Linked DNA regions of Homo sapiens: regions 2 and 3 are each reported to be linked to region 1. The links are microRNA targets in miRTarBase. Many come from high-throughput screens and were not tested one by one. Region 1 holds a microRNA gene; each other region holds the end of a gene's coding sequence.
The links. The annotated mature microRNA hsa-miR-6846-5p reads UGGGGGCUGGAUGGGGUAGAGU and lies in region 1 at 2,202-2,223, opposite strand. An mRNA with a match to its seed (bases 2 to 7 or 8) in the 3' UTR can be bound and repressed. Matches are read on the target gene's strand: a 7mer-m8 pairs with bases 2 to 8, a 7mer-A1 pairs with bases 2 to 7 and ends in A, and an 8mer does both.

Region 1 (3,245 bases):
GAGATGGCTGTGCGCTGCAGGATGCGGCCCATCTGCTCTAGGAGCACAAAGTGACCAGGCCCGCTGGCCCCACCCACCCACAGCCTGGCCCCAGGAAAGGGAGGAACAGGACCCACCAGGACTCAAACCCAGGACCCAGGAAAAACCCAGCAGCTTTTTCCTGGGGAAGACCAAGTTGACGGTGTGCCCACTTGGCCACGTCTTAGCCTATGTAAAGGACACCACCTTCCCCAGCCCTGCCTGGAGCCCCCAGCAAGAACCCAGTGCCACCCCTCGACCCTCCCACCCTGCCTGGCACAGCAAGAACCTGGTTCCTAGGCTCTTGACCTCTGGGCTCCCAGCAAGCCGCTGGCCTGACCCTGCACAGATGGGTTCCCTGTGCTGTCCTCAGTATCCCTTCCTTAGCTAGGAGGGCACTCTCTGGATCACATGGCTGCAGGTAAGGGGGGAAGGTGTCCTCCCTGCCCAAGGTTTGTTCTCATGGCCAACTGCACCACACCAGTGCTGCGGCCACACTGCCCGCCCCGTCGCCAGGGGGTCCTGCTTCTGCCTCTCCCTTTGGGCACAGCCCTGCCAGCTACCCCATGACACAGCCGGCGCCTCATCCCACAGGGAGCCTGGCAGCGGCCACTCACCAGCAATGCTCATGAAGCGGTGTGAGAAGATGGACAGCTGGATAGGGTCCAGCTGGGGGCCCACTGTGCCGGGGACTTCGGCCCCCACGGAGATGCAGATGTCCCCTGTCTTGGTCACCTCTGCCTGGCAACCTGGCTCCACCAGGATGGTGCTGGGGAGCAGAGGGCACAGAGGGCTGCATGGGGCCAGGCGACACCCCTCCAACCAGAGATGCCACGGCCCCAGGCCAGGGGCCACCCCAACGATGGTGGGATACAGAGTCCTGCAGGCCCCTGCAGCCTTGGGCCAGAGAACCCTGCACCAGGGGCCCCGCAGTGGACCCGTCCACATCCTCCACCCTGGCCGGACTTCAGCCCACCTGTTACTGTCGATGATGAGGCAGGGCCCATGGAGCTTGTGCCCATAGCCCAGCTCTGCCAGCAGGTACACAGGGGTCTCCTGGTAGCCCCCCTCAAAGTAGCACTGGGTCATCTGCAGAGGGTGCGGGTGAGTACAGCGCCCGGGCCCAGCACCCTCCCCGATGCCTCTCACAGGGCTTGGTCCCCATCCCGGTGCCCCATGGGTGCTGTCAGGCTGGCACAGGCAGGACCACCAACCTTGTCCACCCGGGGAGGCCCGGTCTGGGCTTTGGGGGCATCCTCGAGGCGAAGACCACTGCGGCCGGTGCCCCGCACTCGCACATCGTCCACGACCACCGGCCGCTCAGGTATGACAAAGCCAAACTCCCTCATGTACCTGCACTCCCCGCGGGGACCCAAGGAGTGGTCAGAGTGAGGCGGCCAGACAGGAGGGCCCCTTGCCAGGGATCCGGAGTCAGGAAGCCACGTACCGCTCCACAAAGGCTGCCCCGAAGTCCCCCGCACGGGGCGAGCGGGCTGTGGCTGGGTGCTGGTGGGCAGACACCATCAGAGCACAGTCCGTGCCCTGGTAGCGCAGGTGCAGGAAGCTCTCAGTGCTGATCTGGGACCTGCAGCAGGTGGTTGGGGGCACTCACACCAAACCCCCTGCCCTGACCCCACCCCACCCAGCGCCCGGCAAGGACACCTGTTCTGCTTCTCGCACACCCCGGGACCACCTGGGAAGTCATCAGGAGGAACACCCACCAAGGGCGTGGTGAGGACAACGTAAGCCCTCTGTCCAGGGCACCCTGGGAGCCCACCTGGGGAAGCCCTGGGCCTGCAGAGCATCCACACACTGCTCCTCCAGGCGGCTCAGCCTCTGGTCCAGCTGCACGAAGGTCTCAGGCGCGTAGAGCAGGGAGCAGGGTTCCTGTGCCTCATGCACCACGTCAGCCAGGGCCAGCCCCAGGGCCGACAGCAGCCCACTGTGCCTGCAGGGATGGGCAGCATGGCAATGGGAGGTCACCTCCCAAGCCCGGCGCAGATCACACCACCTCCGTGCACCCACACCCAGGCCCACCTGTGGATGTGCACCGTGTCCATGCCCAGGGCCCGGGCGATGGCACATGCATGCTGCCCACCAGCTCCCCCAAAGCAGGCCAGCACATGGGCTGAGGGGTCATGGCCTCTTGCCTAGGGAGACAGAAGGGGTCAGTGGGCTCTCCTACTCTACCCCATCCAGCCCCCAGCCTGAGCAGGAGGCCTGGGGCAGGGAGCAGGGCTGGGGGCAGGACAGGCGGGAGAGCAGAGGTGGACGTACCTGCGTGAGTGCACGGATGGGCCGGCACATGGCCTCGTTGGCCACGCGCACGAACCCCATGGCCACCTCCTCCAGGCTCAGCGGGGAGGCCGGGCAGGGCCCGTTGGTCAGGAAGCTGTTGACCTCAGTGGCCACAGCCTCCAGGGCTTTGCGGGAGGCCTCAGGGGAAAGTGGTTGGTTCTCTCCCGGCCCAAAAATGCAGGGGAAGGAGGCAGGCAGCAGGCGACCCAGGACCAGATTAGCATCCGTCACTGTCACAGGGCCCCCTGGGAGGTGGACAGGGTGTGGGGCTTGGGGGCTGGAGGCAGGGGAGCAGGAGTAGGCAGCAGGGATAGGGCTGACAGGAGGGGCTGGGCCTGCGGCGGCAAGCGGAGGGCAAGGCCAGGCCGGCCAGATCCTGACTCTTACCTTTGCGGTAGCAGGCGGGTCCTGGGTGGGCTCCTGCTGACTCGGGCCCAACCACAAAGAGGCCAGACCTAGGGGAAGGAAGGGCTGGGGTTGGAGTTGGACACGAGGAGGGAGACAGGGCTGGGGTCCCAGCCTGGGAAGCAGGAGAGCTGACCTGAAGAAGAGGCGGGAACCCCCTCCCGCTGCCACGGTGTTGATGTCCAGCTGCGGGGCCTGGAGGGTGACGCCAGCTGTGCTGGCCTCGAAGACGTGCTCGAATTCCCCAGCATAGCGGCTCACATCCGTGGACGTGCCTGGCAGGGGTGGGGTGCTGGTGGGTCACTTGAAGACCCAGGGGCCCAGCAGCTGAGCCTCCCCGAGACCCCAGCCCTCGGCCCTCATACCTCCCATGTCAAAGCCGATGACAGGCTGGCCACCCTCCTGCTGGTAGGTGGTGGCTGAGTAGCCCACCACGCCGCCGGCCGGGCCCGAGAGCACAGCACTGGAGCCGCTGAAGGTGTCCATGGGCGCCAGGCCGCCATCGGAGCGCATGAACAACACCT
Region 2 (3,245 bases), not on the chromosome of region 1:
AAAATTATCAGCATTCCAGTTTATAATTAGTAGGTCTAGAATTAGGAAAATAATCCTAAATATGGTATAAGTGACTGAAGTATATTTAATAGAAAAATACATTAAAATACTGAAGACAAAGAATGTTGCTCCATAAGCTCATAACGCAGCAATAATCAATTTACATAAATTATTCCAAATATTAATGAACATGGAGAAATCAGTGAATAACACACTGAAAAATGAATGCCTAGGAGATGAAGTAAAACTTCGGTCTTTTTGGAATATTTAATAAATTCCTGCTTTAAACTAATGATAAAAAAAAAAGGCAATTCCAAATATGACAAACGAAAAGAGACATACAAAGAGATATACGAGACTTTTTTTATTTCACAAAATGGTACATGTTAACTCTTAAGTTGGAAAACACGGATCACTAAGTGATTTTGCGAAACAAACAACAAAATCATTAACACAGAAGTGATACCAAAAATGCAAAGGAGTCTTCCCACCTCTGCACAAAACAACAAAAGCACAAAAGTTGTTAGGCTGAGACATTTCAAAGTAAATTATTTTATTACCTCAAGAAAAAGATCATATAAAAGCTATCAGTTCCAGGAAAGTTTCCAAAATGTTTAATCAAGTCAGCATAAAAATGATACCAAAATCTAGGAGAAAACGCGTAATAAAACAAAATGCTGCAAAACACAGTTCATCCTCAGTTATATCAGTAAAATATCCTAAATAAAATACTTGCCAATAGAATGCAAAAACAGAGACAGAGTAAGAAAGGACACCGAGCAGGAGCCCACGAGGTTCACAGTAAGAAAACAGCCCAGAGAGAAAGCAGCCCGAGGGATTCGGCCACGTGACGTGCGGTGGACCCTGCGGCAGGGACCGGCCAGGCTGCCCGCCCCTCAGCCCCTCAGCCCCTCAGCCGCCTCAGCCCCTCAGCCCCTCAGCCTCCTCAGCCCCTCAGCCGCCTCAGCCGCCTCAGCCCCTCAGCCCCTCAGCCGCCCACGCCTCTGCTCGCTCACCCGCCCGGCTGCCTTAGGGGTCGGCGCTGCCCAGCGGGCTCCAGCGCAGCCTCCTACCCGGCATCCCACCGGCCGCGCCTGCCACTGACTCCTGGCCGCCCGCTACTACTCGCGCGCGGTGGGCAGGGCCAGTCCGGGGGAGCGGACCCCGAGAGGCGCCGCGGGATGGCAGGCGGTGTCTTCCAAACCCAAGCCTCCGAGAGCCGCAGCCGGGCTCGGGCCGCTGACCGACCCGGAGGCCCCACTCTGTCCCAGCCAAGGCCTCCCGGAGCCATCACCCACCAGGAGTCCCGGGCGGGGGCACCACCTGCTCCACGCTGTCGCGGGCTTCTGCGAGGCCATGATCCGTGCCCAACGCCAGCAAAGGGCAGCTTGTGCCCGAGAGTGGGGGAAATGCATCCTTCCCGGGGATCTGAAAACTCCAGGTCCTCCTGCCAGGAGCCCACGGCCTCAGATGGGGCCCAGGAAGCGCCCGCGCTGGGGAAGCGCCCCCTGCACCTGAGCCCGAAATTGTCCCTAACAAACCCAACACCCGCAGGGCTGACGTTTGGACTCCGGGGTGCGGTGTCGATGAAATGGGCACCGCGTGCTTTCCATGCAAAAGACACGAAGTCTGGAGTTTATGGAATTATTGAAGGAAAGCCGCGCCAGTGCCAAGAGATCATGGCCCAGAGCTGGCAGAACTGATCAGACCAATGCTGAGCAAAAGGCCTGAAGAAGACCATCTGGAGGAGCATCCCGAGGGCTTTCCCCAAAGCACCAGATCGCCTTCCTTTCCGAGGCCACAAAGGCGAGAACCTCCAGAAATAGCATGAAACACGGTGACTTGGTGACATCCAAGCCTGCTGCCACCGTGGTTTCCGGGAAGGCAGAATCAAGGCATGAAGTAATCCACGCCAACCACGCTCCTCTGAGGGCTGAGCAAGACATCGATAGTGGGTGAAGGCAAGTGTTTGTCCCAGGAGAGGCCCAGGATGGTTGCTCCCTTGAAGTCACCCGCCAGTCTGAAGGCCCAGGGGACTTGAGCAATACCAAGAACTGGCCACGGTCCTGCAACAGCCCAAGGGCTGCCTGCCGAACATAAGGGGTGGCTGGGTCCTCCATGTGGGCAGCTCATGCAGTCAGCTCAGCAGCTCTCCCTGCCTGGAATGGTCTGGAAAGTGGGGGCCAAGCAGGAAGAGCCACCTGGGTGACCCCCCTCCCTATCTGCTATGCTCCTGTGGGGATCAGGCAAAGGGGAAATTGGATCCTTGCCAGGTTTCCAGTGAAGAAGAGGCTCCCCCAGGATGCAAACTCATTTCATGACAAGTGCCTGGCCCATCAGGCACCTCAGCAACTTGTCAAACCTGTCTCCTACAAGGACCATCCTGTGTGGGACCCTGCCAAGCTCCTAGGCTTTGGGGCAACACCAGGAGGGGAAGGTCATTTCTTCATCTGAGATGTGGTGATTGGGTCCATGTGAGACCAGGAGTCTGGGCTTCAACCCTTTTCTGCCAGCAGCGAGCTGAAGTCCTGCCTACTACGTCCTGGTGGACAAACGCTGAATTTTCAAGAAGTTGCAACACCCCCGAGAGACACCCATGCCTGTGAATATGGGCACAGGTACCAGGAATATCGCTGCCCGGGAATACTCACAGGGTTATATGCAGAATAGGCCACGAGGATGTCACATAATTCCTGCTGCCTAGAAAAGAGGGGAAAGAGGGTTTTGTTTTTTTTGTGCAGACGCTGTCAATTTCATTTTGTCTACAAACCCAAATAACGAACACAATTCTGGGTTCAGATGATCCCCCCAAATAAGCAGTGAGCTCTTTAGGACACCTGAGTTTTTAGGAATTTTTTTTCAGTAAAATCCACATTCCTTGCAATGCAATGTCGTAGGTGTACAGTTGGATCAGTGATCATTTTTCACTCTGGTTGATTTTTTCTTCCCCTTTTTCTCAGTTTGCACACACAGAAGTCCAGTCTTTGGGACGTGCAGTTCCACGATTCTGAACTAATGTGCAGAGCCTCCCGTCCACCACTGCAGCCCCTCCCAGAGCGGCTCCTTCATCTTCCAAGTCCCTAGCATGTCCCCTTTGCAGGCAACGTCTCCCGGCTCTGTCAGCCCCTGGCCATCCTGATCTGTTCTTTGTCTCTATGGTTTGCCCTTTCCCAGAATGGCCAATGAATTGGAATCCCATGGTGGTAGCCTGTTGGGTCTGGCGTCATTCCCTCAGCAATACTCAT
Region 3 (3,245 bases), not on the chromosome of region 1:
TGTTCATGTGGGTGTCCTCTGCCCTCCCTGACCCCTTGCCTGTCTCTCGTCCACAGGCAAACACTGGAGCTGTGTGCAGAAGTTCGCCGCTGGTCTGGGCCGGTCCCTGCGAGAGGCCCAAGCAGGTGAGACCGAGGAGGCCGAGACTGTGAGCGCCATGGCCTTGCTGTCGGTGGGGGCCGAGCAGGCCCAGGCTGCGGCAGCCCGGGAACACAGCCCCAGGTAAGCAGCAACCCGCACCACCTCTCTGCCCTCACCCCTGCTGGTGCGCCCCACTCAATACCCTCCCCTGTGCTTGCCCCACAGGCCGGCAGAGGAGCCCATGGAGCAGGAGCCTGCCCTGTGACGCCCCGGCCCCCATCCCTCTGGGCTTCACCATTGTGATTTTGTTTATTTTTTCTATTAAAAACAAAAAGTCACACATTCAACAAGGTGTGCCGTGTGGGTCTCTCAGCCTTGCCCCTCCTGCTCCTCTACGCTGCCTCAGGCCCCCAGCCCTGTGGCTTCCACCTCAGCTCTAGAAGCCTGCTCCCTCTGCAGGGGGTGGTGGTGTCTTCCCAGCCCTGTCCCATGTGTCCCTCCCCCCATTTTCCTGCATTCTGTCTGTCCTTTTCCTCCTTGGAGCCTGGGCCAGCTCAAGGTGGGCACGGGGGCCCAGACAGTACTCTCCAGTTCTGGGGCCCCCCGAGTGAGGAGGGAACGGGAAGTCGGTGCCTTGGTTTCAGCTGATTTGGGGGGAAATGCCTTAATTTCACTCTCCTCCCTTCTCCAGCCTCAGGGGAGGATCTGGAGGATCCACTACTGTCTTTAAGATGCAGAGTGGAGGGGAGGTGGGCACCCACCCTGCGATTCTCCACCCTTTCCCCTTCTTTCGTCCTCACCATCTCTGCAGACCCCTCTCCTCCTCCTTCCTCTTGGTCTCAGCACTGATGGGAGGCTGGTGCCCAAGCTGTGGCCTGCAGTCTGTGAGGAGGGCTGTCTTGCCTCACACTCCTCACAGCCTACTTCCCCTTCCCCGGGGCTGAGAGGGTGAAAGTGTGTGGGGAAGGAGAGGACTGGTTTCCTGGGTTCTCAGGGGCCAGGAGGAGTAACAGAACCAGGTCTGCTCCCCACCTTACTCGGATGGCCTCCCTGCCCCTCTGCTGGCACAGCCTGGGCAAGGGGAGAAGGTGGTCCCTGCAGAGGGGCTCCAGGCTGGTGAGAGCCCCCCTGCTGTCAGGACCAGATTTTCCCAGCCATCCAGCATGCTGCGGGGAGAAGGGGCAGAGGCTCACCTCCCTCCTGGGGCCTTTTGTTTTGGATCCTGGGGATGGTGAGAATGGAGGTTCTAGAAGGGGTAAGGCCAGAACCCAGGGATCCAGGAGTCGGCTCTCAGCTGGAGCTTCCATACCTTCTGGGCTCCCTTTGCTGACCACCAGCCCAAGGGAGCTAAGACCAGGAGGGGGCTGGGCGCTGTCCCTTCTCTTTCCCAGGAGCCCTGCCAGGGGCTGTGGGCCTACAAGGCTTCCAGGGGATGCCATCCAGCCTGTAGGAAACCAAAGATGGGAAGTGGCTCCTAGGGGGCTGACTCTTCCTTCCTCCTCCTCCCCAGTACCACATATACTTTCTCTCCTTCTATCTCCAGGGCCCCACCAATCTGTTTACATATTTATTATCCTATGGGGGCCTGAGCAGGATTGAGGGAGCCAGGGGAGGGGCAGGAGTCCCAGCACCATCGGTTCATAGTGTGCTTGTGTGTTTGTTTTAGATCCTCCTGGGGGATGGGGATGGGGCCAGGCTCAGTGTACTAGGCCTCTCTGTGCTGAGCCCCAGGCTCCCGGCCCCTTACCCACTCTCTCCCTGTGGCTGGTCTGGTTCTCATGTAAACCCACTCCTTGCTTTGTCTCCCTGGATATGGATTTCAGTTAAGTATTTTGTAACCCGTTACACTGTGTGTCCTTGTGTAAATAAACTTGTTTCTGGCAGTGCCTTCTGGGGCCAATGTCTCTATTCTCTGGGCTCCCAAATGGAGTAGAGGTTCTCATCCTCCTTCCTAGCCAAACACACTACTCTTTTCTCCAGCCCCTGGACTAGAAGCCGATTTAGGAAACTGGAGGTTGGGGCGCAAGATCTGTCCTGTAAGTGAAAAGACAGGGTTATACCGAATATAGTCACAGCATCTCATGGGACCTCTCATGTGGCCTAGGCAGTGATGAGGCAGGGGACCCAGGGCTGAGAGGTCTCACCTGAGTTTACAGCCCTCTCCTTTCCTGCCTCTCTGCCCCTGGAAACAGGGCTGGAGATGGCACAGAGACTACTGGAGCAGCCTGGCAAAGGTTCCACTTGTGCACACACAGGCAAGGCCCATGGAGATGTGCGCATAGGCAAGAAAGGAATCTCAAAGTATTCAAGGGCTTTATTGGGGCCGCCCTGGCTGCCCCTCACAGTGTTGCAAGAACCCGCTGGTCTTGCTGTTGCCTTTGCTCTTTGGGGGCTTGAGAGGAAAGGCAGAGGGAGGACCAACTTATCTGGGAGAGAGAAGGCCCATCTTTGGGGCTAAGACCAGGTGGTGCGGAAGCAGATTTAGGGAGGGGAGGGCCTACTTAGGGGCTGGAAGGGGATGGGGCTGCCTCCTGGAGTGTGGTGGTCACAGAGTGTTGGCTTTGTGGGAGGGAAAGGAAAGGGAGGCACACAAGAAGTCAGGAAGAGTGGATGGGCGGTGCTTCCTGGGCACTGAACATGTGCACTGCCCAGGGCACGAGGGCCAGGACTAGGCATGGCCAGAGGGTGTACTTGAGGAAATTGAAAATGTAGAAGAGGCTGATCTGAGGGGGGTGGCCCAGCCAGTCCAGGGGGCCCAGCAGCCCCATGGCCAGCACAAGGCAGGCTATCTTCTGGCCATTTCCCAGCTGTGCCCGACGCACCTGGGCATAGCAGGGAGAGTGCAAGGCAATGCCCAGGCCCAGGGCAGCCCCTGAGTCACGGCTCAGGGAGGCAAAGGGCCGGCTATCCACGTGTATCCACTCAGGCCGCTCACACCACTTGAAGGCTAGGCTGATGGACCTGTGGGGAAGAAGAGTTCTTGCCAGGAGAGGCTGGAACATAGAAGGCCACTGGCTCTTGGCCATCTGCCCTTGGGGCCCACTCCCATGTTCTGTTTTGTGCCTGTGAGGGTCTATGTGAATAGGTAATGTGTCCTTTTTTAGCTATAATGAACCAGAGACACACCAGGCTAGGTGCAGGCGAGATAGGACAGGGCCCAGCCT

Region 2: the mRNA of TBC1D28 is a reported target of hsa-miR-6846-5p. Seed matches in the 3' UTR shown: 7mer-A1 at 2,178-2,184.
Region 3: miRTarBase lists G6PC3 as a target of hsa-miR-6846-5p. Seed matches in the 3' UTR shown: 8mer at 2,468-2,475.

The regions. Positions count from the first base shown.
Region 1 is chr8:144,055,153-144,058,397 of GRCh38, forward strand. MIR6846 (microRNA 6846) reads right to left here and starts at 2,228; the gene lies at 2,169-2,228. OPLAH (5-oxoprolinase, ATP-hydrolysing) reads right to left here. Exons shown (of 27, transcript NM_017570.5): 7 at 3,087-3,245; 8 at 2,858-2,996; 9 at 2,704-2,771; 10 at 2,296-2,561; 11 at 2,056-2,168; 12 at 1,796-1,966; 13 at 1,466-1,603; 14 at 1,233-1,371; 15 at 995-1,107; 16 at 636-787; 17 at 1-37.
Region 2 is chr17:18,633,898-18,637,142 of GRCh38, forward strand. It overlaps TBC1D28 (TBC1 domain family member 28), which reads right to left. Exons shown (of 10, transcript NM_001039397.3): 10 at 350-2,700. The coding sequence ends at 2,565. Among named protein-coding and RNA genes, the nearest start is that of TBC1D28, 8.9 kb to the right of the region's middle.
Region 3 is chr17:44,075,477-44,078,721 of GRCh38, reverse strand. G6PC3 (glucose-6-phosphatase catalytic subunit 3) reads right to left here. Exons shown (of 6, transcript NM_138387.4): 6 at 2,378-3,042. The coding sequence ends at 2,679. It overlaps HDAC5 (histone deacetylase 5), which reads left to right. Exons shown (of 27, transcript NM_005474.5): 26 at 57-222; 27 at 307-1,969. The coding sequence ends at 346. Among named protein-coding and RNA genes, the nearest start is that of G6PC3, 6.4 kb to the right of the region's middle. RefSeq lists enhancers at 1,157-1,696, 2,714-3,245.